Linked DNA regions of Homo sapiens. The protein of the gene in region 1 interacts with the protein of each later gene in a pairwise test. Each region holds a gene or a part of one and is shown on either strand. Other genes may lie near its edges. The genes, in order: HMGCL, PECR and MS4A7.

The links.
Region 2: the proteins of HMGCL (region 1) and PECR come close enough for resonance energy transfer, tested with the Homo sapiens proteins (one large-scale study listed by BioGRID).
Region 3: the proteins of HMGCL (region 1) and MS4A7 interact in a two-hybrid assay, tested with the Homo sapiens proteins (one large-scale study listed by BioGRID and IntAct).

The regions. Positions count from the first base shown.
Region 1 is NC_000001.11:23,818,790-23,822,443, reverse strand, and holds part of HMGCL (hydroxymethylglutaryl-CoA lyase, mitochondrial isoform 1 precursor), read left to right. Parts: intron 1-1,850; coding exon 1,851-1,934; intron 1,935-3,654. UniProt on the Homo sapiens protein: Mitochondrial 3-hydroxy-3-methylglutaryl-CoA lyase that catalyzes a cation-dependent cleavage of (S)-3-hydroxy-3-methylglutaryl-CoA into acetyl-CoA and acetoacetate, a key step in ketogenesis. Terminal step in leucine catabolism.
Region 2 is NC_000002.12:216,068,224-216,071,877, forward strand, and holds part of PECR (peroxisomal trans-2-enoyl-CoA reductase), read right to left. Parts: intron 1-3,654. UniProt on the Homo sapiens protein: Participates in chain elongation of fatty acids. Catalyzes the reduction of trans-2-enoyl-CoAs of varying chain lengths from 6:1 to 16:1, having maximum activity with 10:1 CoA. Has no 2,4-dienoyl-CoA reductase activity.
Region 3 is NC_000011.10:60,381,411-60,385,064, reverse strand, and holds part of MS4A7 (membrane-spanning 4-domains subfamily A member 7), read right to left. Parts: intron 1,937-3,654; 5' UTR 1,924-1,936; coding exon 1,777-1,923; intron 1-1,776. UniProt on the Homo sapiens protein: May be involved in signal transduction as a component of a multimeric receptor complex.

The DNA.
Region 1 (3,654 bases):
ACAGTATCAAGACAGGTAGAGGAAAGAGGAAAAAAAAAGTATTGTGTTACTTGATAGGGAAGACTAAGATTTTGAGCTGACTTTATATAGAGGAGACTCAGGGCATTTTGTAAAAACTGTCTTCAGCTACTGGGGGTGTCACCTCCCCTTAGACCCATGCTTGTCATCACCCAGCCTATGACTGTAACAGAAGAGAGCCCTCCTGCATCTCGCCCATACCCCGAAAAGTCCAGGACTGACTACTCCTCCCCACACTCAGTAATTGCTCTCTTCTGGGACAGCTGTGTCCTTCATGGTTTATGTGTTATTTTAATAACTTTAAAGAGTGGCTACTTTGTACCAAACACGGTGCCAAACACTAGGGATGAAGTGGAGTTGAGACAGACAAGGTCCCTCAAAGAGCTTATGTTCTACTGGAAGAGACATTGAGTAGGCATTCTTTATCGTGCTTTGAAGGAAATAATTATAGCTCTGCAATAGCGAAAATAATGGGGGTGGGAGGAATGGCAGCTTTGCAAAGGGTGGTCAGAGGAAGCCTCTCTGCAACTGAAAGATGAGAGAGAGATGTAAGAACAGCCAGTTTTTTTAAAAAAAGCCAGATGAGGAACCCTGGGGCAGAGGGAAGAGAAGGCAGGGAGCTTAGCAACCTGTTGGGTGGAGGTTGGGAGTGGACAGTAGGGGCGAGTGATGATTCCAGGAGGTCAGAGGAGGCAACTCATACAGTCTTTTCTTTTCTTAATTGGAAAGCATCAAGTGACATATAGAGTCATTTAATTTTTTTTTTTGAGACAGGGTCTCGCTCTGTTGCCCAGGCTGGAGTGTAGTGGCACAGTCATAGCTCACTGCAGGCTCAACCTTCTGGGCTCAAGCGATTCTCCCACCTCAGCCTCTTGAGTAGCTGGGACTACATGTCCATTCCACCACACCTGGCTAATTTTTCTATTTTTAGTAGAGACGGGGTTTCTTCATCATGTTGGCCAGGCTGATCTCGAACCTCTGGCCTCAAGTGATCTGCCTGCCTTGGCCTCCCAAAGTGCTGGGATTACAGGCATGAGCCACCGTGCCTGGCCTTTTTTTATTTTTTTTGGAAATGGAGTCTTCCTCTGTCGCCCAAGGTGGAGTACAGTGGCACGATCTTGGCTCATTGCAACTTCCACCTCCCTGGTTCAAGCAATTCTCCTGCCTCAGCCTCTTGAGTAGCTGGAGTTACAGGCGTGCACCACCACACCCGGCTATTTTTTGTGTATTTTTAGTAGAGATGGGGTTTCACCATGTTGGTCAGGCTGGTCTCAAACTCCCGACCTCAAGTGATCGCCCGCTTCGGCCTCCCAAAGTACTGGGATTACAGGCATGAGCCACTGCCCCCCGCAATACCTGGCCTTTTTAAACTACTTCTAACATACATACAGCAGCATACAGAGTCCTATAGGCCATGGTGAATAGGTGAAATGGCTCAATGAAGTTCTGGCTTATGCAGTAGGGTACATGCGATGCCTTTGACAGAGATGGAAAGGATGGAGTCAGATGGGCTTTAGGAGAAATTAGAGTTCTGTTTCGGGACTGCTATATGAAGAGATGCGAATAGAGCTGTCAGGTAGGCAGTGGAAAAGGAGTCTGGACTTCAGGGGAGAACCGGTACTGGAAGGATGAATCTCTTGCTTGTTCCTGTTACTAAGTGAAATATTCTTTTTGTTCTTAATTCTAAAATAGACCAAATGTGAATTAAATGGTGAGAAATATTTCTTCTTGTCTCATTATTAGTGAAGATAGATCCATTCTTTCATATTGGTCTCCCTGGGAATTGTGGCAATCTCTTCCTCATACTTTTTGTTTCCTCTTTTAAACCAAAGGTCAGCACCTCATCTATGGGCACTTTACCAAAGCGGGTGAAAATTGTGGAAGTTGGTCCCCGAGATGGACTACAAAATGAAAAGGTAAAGTTGGAAATGAGCCAAAAAAACAGTTTTTTCAAGCATCTGCTTTGAGTATTACGTGTGATAGGTGCAATGGCAGTTGACAGAGCTATGCAAGATGTGATTCCTCTGCACAAGTTAGGGGAGAGTAGAGGAGGCCAAACAGGGACAGACACCTGTGACAGTTAAATGATCTAAAATGGTGGGGCAAGCTGGATGGGTGGCTCATGCCTGTCATCCCTAATTACTTGGGAGGCTGAGGTGGGAGGATGGCTTGAGCCCAGGAGTTTGAGACCAGTCTGGGCAATATAGCAAGACTCTATCTTATTAAAAAATATATGTATATATATAAACTGAATGGTGGTGCAACAGGTTTGGTGTCCCCAGGTCCACAGCCCAGTGGGGTGGGGTAGACCCAGCAATTCCATGTAAGGGGATTTATCCAAAGCAAGTCACGAAGGCCAAATGTAGAGATTTAGCCTTGGGGGTGTTCCTTACAAACCTGTTTGGTAAGCACAGAACAGTTGGAAACAACTTAAATATTTAGTATGAGGAAAGTTGGGTCAGATACACTATGGACTTTTTATAAAATGAAATATTATGAAGCCATTAATAACATAGGTATATATAAAGTGACTCAAGCAGTTTATAAAATAGTACATGTGACTGGGCATGGTGGTGGCTCATGCCTGTAATCCCAGCACTTCAGGAGGCTGAGGCAGAGCACGATTCTGTCTCCAAACAAAAACAAATAGTGCATGTGCGCGTACGCACGCGCGCGTGTGTGTGTGTGTGTTTTTGGGAGATGGCATCTCACTCTGTCACCCAGGCTGGAGTGCAATGGCGCAATCTCGGCTCACCTCAACCTCCTCCTCCCGGGTTCAAGTGATTCTCCTGCCTCAGCCTCCCGAATAGCTAGGATTACAGGCCCCTGCCACCATGCCCAGCTAATTTTTGTATTTTTAGTAGAGATGGGGTTTCACCAGGTTGGCCGGGCTGGTCTTGAACTCCCGACCTCAGGTGATCCACCTGCCTCAGCCTCCCAAAGTGCTGGGATTACAGGCATGAGCCAATGCGCCTGGCCATGTATTTTTTAATCTTAACACTTTTATGTAAGAAAAAAGTTTATATATGTATGGGAGCATTTATCTAGACTAGGACCTAGACCAGCACTTTCTGTGAAGATGGAAATATTCTGGACCTGAGCTTTTCCATGTGGTGGCCACTATACCCATGTGGCCCTTGAGAACTTGAGATGTGACTAGTGTGGCCAAGGAATTGTATTTTTATTTTTATACAATTTTTATTAAATTTAAATAACCACATGTGACTAGTGACATATTGGGCTGCACAGATCTAGAAAGTTACACACCAGGGTGTTAATAGCGTTATCACTGGGAGATTCTAAGGGTGGTTTTCTTTTGTTTTTGGCATGTTTTTCTGAAAGAATCATATATTGATTATTTTTTCAATAAGAAAAGCTTTTTTCTTTTTCTCTTTTTTTTTTTTTTTTTTTTTTTTTTTAGCACGTCCATCCTAGCTTTAATAGTGAGTGCTTGTTGGAAACAATAGTGTGTAAGTTCCCGAAGGGCAGAATCCTGTCTGTTCTGCTTCTGCTTACTGCTATATCCCCGGCACCTAGCACAATGCCTGCAACATGGAGGGCTTTCAAAAATTATTTGACAGGCTGGGCATGATGGCTCATGCCTGTAATACTGGCACTTTGGGAGGCTGAGGCAGG
Region 2 (3,654 bases), on another chromosome or scaffold:
TCAAAAAAAAAAAAAAAAAAAAAAACCGGAACCAGAAATGACACTGATGATATAATTAAATAGACCAGTGATGAAGAGAAAAATCTTAAAAGCAGCCAGAGAAAAACAACACATTAAGTATACAACAAGAAAGATAAAGACTTCTTTCAGAAACAATGCAAGCCAGAAGACACTGAAACATCTTTACGGTATGGAAAGCAATGAAAAAGATGGTGAACCTAGAAATCTTAACCCAGTGAAAATATCTCTCAAAAATGATGGCAAAATAAAGACTTTTTCACACATATGAAAGCTGGAAGAATTCATCAAGGTGATCTGCACTACAAAAAAGATGAAAGGAAGTCCTTCAAGTAGAAGGAAAATGATGCCAGATAAAAATCTAAAAATATACAGAAGAAGAAAGAGAACTAAAAATGGTTCGTGTGTTTGTTTTTGAGACAGGGTCTTACTCTGTTGCCTAGGCTGGTGTGCAGTGGCGATCTTGGCACACTGCAGCCTTGACCTTCCAGGATCCACTGATCCTCCCACCCCAGCCTCCCGAGTAGCTGGGACCACAGACATACACCACCATATCTGGCCAATTTTTTTTTTTTTTTTTTTTTTTTTTTAGTAGAGATGAGGTCTATGTTGCAGAAATAGTAATTATGTGAGTAAATATAAAGACTTTTCTTGTTTCTATTCAGATCTCTTTAAAGGTATAGTTCAAAGCAAAAATAATAACAACATATTGTAAGATTTATAACATATGTAGAAATAAAATGATTCCCTCCTTCTCCTTGAGAATAATAGCACAATGGCTAAGAAGGGGAAATGGAAGTAGAGACGGTCCTTCTTTTGCTCTGCTCCAATATGCTCTGATTTCAGTTAGCTTAGCTTAAAGACACCAGTCTCTCAACAACATGGTTCAAATTTCAACAACCATGGTATATTAACTGTAACTGCATAAAATGCAAACTTTACTGCTAGCTTTTCAACCCACAAATCATAAATAACAGATGCACATCAAGATCAGTGATTAATCATGTCATTTCTTCCAGCGTCTATCAGTGAATGCCCACTGTGCATCTCTTCTTCAGTTCAGAAGAGCTCAGACAGCAAATAATATAGCTGTGTCACCTCCTGGTCTTTCAACAAGAAACCCAAGTGACATTTTATAAAAACACATGATCTAAGGGGGGACTGGCCAACAAACATGAAAAGTGAGACCAAGAAATGAAAATTTGTAACACTGGAAGCGAAATTAGAATGCATGTCAGGGGAATTATAAAAGGGGAATGCGTGACACTGCTGCCAGTCTAGAAACTACAGAAAGCCAAAAGATCTTACTGAAGGCAAACTTAACATCATGAGGAAAGTGCCTGTGACAAAGAAGATGAAGATATCCCAGAGGAAGTGATGCCCACAAAAAACTTCAGATTAAAGACACTTTTGGGGCCAGGCATGGTGGCTCACTTCTGTAATCCCAGCACTTTGGGAGGTCGAGGTGGGCGGATCACAAGGTCAGCAGTTCGAGACCAGCTTGACCAACATGGCAAAACCCCTTTTCTACTAAAAATACAAAAATTAGCCAGGTGTGGTGGTGGGCGCCTGTAATCCCAGCTACTCCGGAGGCTGAGGCAGGAAAATTGCTTGAACCCAGGAGGCAGAGGTTGTAGTGAGCTGAGATCGTGCCATTGCACCCCAGCCTGGGTGACAAGAGCAAGACTCTGTCAAAAAAAAAAAAAAAAAAGAAACTTTTGGAAATATTTCATGACATTGAAAGTATAAAGGATAAAATGTTGGAAGCTGATCGAAACATAGAAAGGAGTACAATAATTTAACAAGGTACAGAAAAAAATGCTTGCTCTATATCATAAGGTATACAATGAGAAGGCAAGCACTAATCGAATGACTCGACACACTTCACATGAAAATAAAACAGTTTAATTTTCAATACTGAGGTTTTTAAATTTTTATTTTTAACTGACAAATAACTATACATCTATGGGGTAAAATGTGATATTTTGATATATAAATATATTGTGGAATGATGAAATCAGGCTAATGTATCTATCACCTCTTATCATTTCTTTGAGCTAAGAACCACTTTGAGCTAAATCCACTATTCTCGGAATTTTGAAATACACAATGCATTACTAACTATAGCCATCATGCTGTGCAATAGATCATCAGAACTTATTCCTCCTGTCTAAATGAAACTTTGTACTCTTTGACCAACATCTCCCCAGTGAAACTGGTCTACTTTTATTATTTTTTTCATGTCCCTCTGTGGCAGACTGCCATGGTTACTACTTGAGACCGTCACTACGACAGTTACTACTGTTACTACTTACTATTTGAGACGGTCATTACGACACTGAACGAAGGAGGATGAACGCAGAAATGAAAACTTAAAACAAAAGAAACTGTTTTAAAGGAAGGGGCCAGGGGAAGAAGAAGAGGGTTCCCTGCTTCTACTGAGTAAAGGCAGCAACCTTGAGCTCCTACGGCCTTTTGTATTTATTGGGTAGAAAGAGCAGGGAGGAGCAGGTAACATTTGGTCAGCTGCTTAACTGATCACAGGTTCACATTATTGCTAACAGGCTTCAGATGTGCCTCATCACAAGAAACACTTGCGCCTGGGTCGTGACTGCCCTCAGCATTCCTTCAAGGGTGGCAGACGCAGTTTGTCATTTGCCAACATTCTGCATTTATGAGAACAGTTTGCTGTTTGCTCATATACCCTCCAGCGGTATACTGAGTTGATCACGACCCTCACTCTTTCAGCCTGCAACATCTCTCCCTTTTTGTTTTTGAATTAATTGAGACAGGTAATTGCAAAATGTGCAGCCTTGGTGGTTCATTCCGTCTTCGCATTCAGCTCATACTGGGGGAACCGGGCCCATGGTTGGGATCCATGGGTCGCTCTAGTCTCCCGTTCTGTGGTCGCACACACCTTGAGGGCACCCACACAGTTTGTTCATCTCCTGCAAAAACGCAAGCGTACCCTTATCCCCACGTCAGTAAATCTACCAAAACAGAAGCAAAGGCTTTTGTGGCTGTGGCCAGGAGGCATGCCGTTGCCAAAGCATCTGCTCCACAAGCTGTAACTCAGCTTCTGCCTCTTTGGTTAATTACCACGGGGTAAACTTCTCATTGATAAGGAGAGGCAGGCTCTCTCTGATTAACAGAAGGCACATGGAAAGCAAATTGAAGCTCATCCTTCTCGTGCAACAGTATAGCAAAGAAAAAAAATCATTAAGCCTTCAATTTGTACTGTACAGGTGAGTCCATTAAATGTTATGGGTTGTGATAGATAAATCTCTCTCCTAGTTGTACTTTCAAATCCTTGATTCCCTCGCTTCTCCCTTCGTGGAGAAGGGTGCAACTTACAGGGAACAAGCAATAGTTGTGCAATATATTCTCCTGGTTCAAAAACCCAAAGTTCTTGTGACATTACCACTACTGGAATTTCCTCTTCACAATCAAAATCAACAACTCCTGGGGCTACAGTAACGCCCTGCAAGTTAAGATGACTTTTGCCCAAAACTCTCTATTTGTCTCTATTTAACTCTACCTCTATTTCTATTTATCCCTACTTATCTCTATTTGTCCCTGCAGGCCTCTTTAGGTCCCTTCAGGTCTCTGTTTGTCCCTGAAAGTCCCGTTTGGGTG
Region 3 (3,654 bases), on another chromosome or scaffold:
CTAGACTGCACTTCAAACAGATAAAAGTGATTATTTGAATGCACACGGTAAAGTATAAAGAGTATAAAATACATTATAATTTGTTATATTAAAGAGGAAAAATGTTACAAGGAGCCAATCGATATGCTTCTAGAGAAAGTCATGTATAGCTAACCTCTTCTTTTCTGATAGGATTATTAAACCAGCAAATCGGAAAGTGATCATACACACATTTTAACTTTTTTTGAAAAAGATACTTGACAGTTTTTAAATTTATTTTCTTGAAAAGTAGATAAAAAAGTTGTCCAGTGAGGTGGAAATAGAGAGCAAACTTTTCACAGGAGTGTTAATGAAGAGATTTTTCAGTTGAAATTAGATAGAGCAGGTCATCTCTTCTGCTGTAATTCATCTTATTTTGTTCATCATTGGATTTTAATAATAATTATTTCGCAAGTGGAAGAACTGAAGTTTAGCTGTTAGCTTGCTCTAAAGCCCATGCTTTTGCTCATAGTTTAATGCATGTGCAATTGAAAGATGATGCAAACATAGGAGAAATAAAAAAAGAAGTCAACCATTCACATCATCAACAGTTATTGAATACCACAACAGGTATGTTGTGTGCCAGGCACGAGGGAATGAAGCAAATGAAAATCACTACCATTGGAGAGCTTATATGTGTACTATGTCTTGTCTGTAAAGGTACAGACAAGTTCCATGCAAGGCAGAATAGAGTTAAGAGCAAAGTAGTAGGACATGAGGCTTGTGAAGTACTGGAGGCATGGTACAAACTATGTAGGGATTTTTAGGCTATGTTTTACCAACTTTGCTTTTCATTTTGAGCAAAAAAGGAATCCCACTGGATAATTTTGAGCCAGGAGAATACATGATCTAACTTTCATTTTTAAAAGAGTACCCTACCTGCTGTACTAAGAATAGATTGTAAAGAAACAGGGCAGGGAGATCCATCTAAATAGGCAGTGAATAGGACCTGGGTATTATAAGAGGGTATTCAAAACCACATGGAGATTAAAGTTCTGGATATGAGGGATGATGATCTGGGACACTTGGATGTCTTATAGTTACTCATATGAACGGGGAAAAATGGGTCATGAGATTAGTCTTGATCGTCTCATCTCAAAATATTTGAAAAATAAGCTCAAAGTTAATTTAATCATATTGAGTAAAATCCATATGGTTAAATAGAAAATTTTTACTGTACTAATGACAAAATAAGAAAGACTAATTTGTGGCTGGGCACAGTGGCTCATGCCTGTAATCCCAGCACTTTGGGAGGCCAAGGCGGGCAGATCACAAGGTCAGGAGTTCAAGACCAGCCTGGCCAGTATGGTGAAACCCCATCTCTACTAAGAATACAAAAATTAGCCGGGCGTGGTGGCGTGCACCCATAGTCCCAGCTACTCGGGAGGCTGAGGCAGAAGAATCACTTGAACCCAGGAGGCGGAGGTTGCAGTGAGCTGAGATCGTGCCACTGCACTCCATGCTGGGTGACAGAGGGAGATTCTGTCTCAAAATAAATAAATATATAAATAAATAAAATAAGAAAGACTAACCTGTTAATTGTGAAGCATGCTAGTGAAAAAGATCTAGTGGTTTTAGTTTCTAGAAACTGCTGCAGAGCTTTAAGAGTCTTCCCTTAAAGCTCCATTTCATGTCCTCATTAGCCTGGAGTCAGCCAGAAAAGAGTGAAAGAGTTTCCCAGACCCACTGTAGATCTGTAGTCTAGATACATTTACAAAGTATTTTCTCAGTATTCCCCTTATAATGAGGTGGACTTACCCCAAGAACGGTGGTTTCTGTTGGCAGCCCGTTCTGCAGGTAATCTTCGTTTTGGTACATGTGTCCAGGTTTCTCTCTTTGAGGGATAGTGATGCCCTTTGGTGTAAAGCTGTGAGAAACCCCCATGGTTTGGGATTGTAATAGCATGATGCTGATGATGCTGGAAGAGGCATCAAAACTCAGTTACTTCCCAAGGTTTGACTTACAGACATAAACTTCCCAGGGACCATACTTTGTAGGAACTTAAGAAGGTATTTGCCATTATTCCAAGGCTGGTTGTCCTTCAGAAACAAAACATGGGGATCAGTGGAGCATTGGAAAGTGGGCATGCTGGGCACAGTTCATCCATTGTGGTCAAGAAGCATGTCACTGGGAGAGTACTGTACACATTTTGAGGGGTCCCACAATTGAGAGGTGAGCAAATCACATAGAACTTGCTTTGTAGCCCTGAATGTGTCCATCTCCCTCTCCCTCCAGTGACCTCTGCTTCCAGCTTCCCTTCCCTATCTCCTGTATCTCTGCTTCACTTGTGCTACCTTCTCACACCACATCTTCCAGGATTACACTTTTATGCTACACCTGCACTGATCAGTCTTCTACTCCAGTCTTCATTTTGTCTTCGTAAAAATGTTGAGGATGAATGCTGTTCCACTTTCCTTTCCTATAGCGAGATGGCCTGTCCCATCCGGAATCTTCCTCCTTGCTTATATTGGCTTCGTAATTAGTAATGTAAACATTTACTTAACTCCTGCTGAATTCCAAGCATTAGACCATTGCAGCTCTAATCCTTATAACAACCCTGTAACTTACATGTTATTAAATCAATTTTATACATTAGAAACCTGGGGCTAATAAGCTCAAGTGACTTTTATTGAATGAAATAGTCACATAAAGTACTTAGCCTGGCACTTAGAATGTGTTCAATATATGGTAGCAAATATTAACAGCCTGTGTTTACATGACTGGATTGAGACTTGTCTGGCTCAGACGCTTGTGATATTTTTTTCTCTATGCCATGTTAATTCTCCTCCTCTTCCTCTTCCTTCCTTTCTTCCTTCCTAACATTTCCAGTTCCCTTGTAGATTCCAGGAGCAAGTTGTCTGCCACCACTAACTCAGCAGCATTGCTGGGCCTCTGTGGTGTCAGCAACAAGGCTCAGCACCTGAAATGTTGCCCAGATTTGTTTTCAGCTCAACATTCTCCCTACTGAAGGCCAGAGTTTAGTTAAAGGCTTGTCATCCTTGAAAGGTGCCACAGCTCTGCTGCCTGACATTTTGCCTCAATGTGTTGGTGCTTTAGGAATGGTTCTGGCCTCTCTTGGGTGGAGTGAAGAACATGTAAAAATTGGAAATGACACCTAGAATCTCTTCCTAGTGAGGGAGATGGAAAAGTGCACTGGGATGGGAGTCCAATGCCTAGGCATCTAGTTGCACATCTGACCATATGTCTTGGAGTCCAGTCGTGTGTTCAGATCCCATATCCACCAGTTACTGCTAAACTCACCCTGGGCAAGGTATTTTCACCACTTCATAGGTTTGTGGTACAGGTTGGATAAGATGACACATATAATGGACTCAGCATAGGGGGAGGCATGTGATAAACTCCCAAAACATATCAGTTTTATCTAATATTCATTGGAAGCCCAGTTCTGATATTGATGAGCTGGCCGTAGGCAGGATACTTTCCCTCATTCATCCCCAGTTTCCTTATCTGTAAAATAAGGATAATGACACTATCCTGAAGGACTCTTGTGAGGATTTGAATGACACACGTGAGTGTCTTTTGTTGTAACTCTCTGAGTTTTATCAGGTGTTCCATAATAGTCGATCCATGTTTGGACCTCCATTTTATTTCTACTCCTAGATCTGTGCCTTAGTC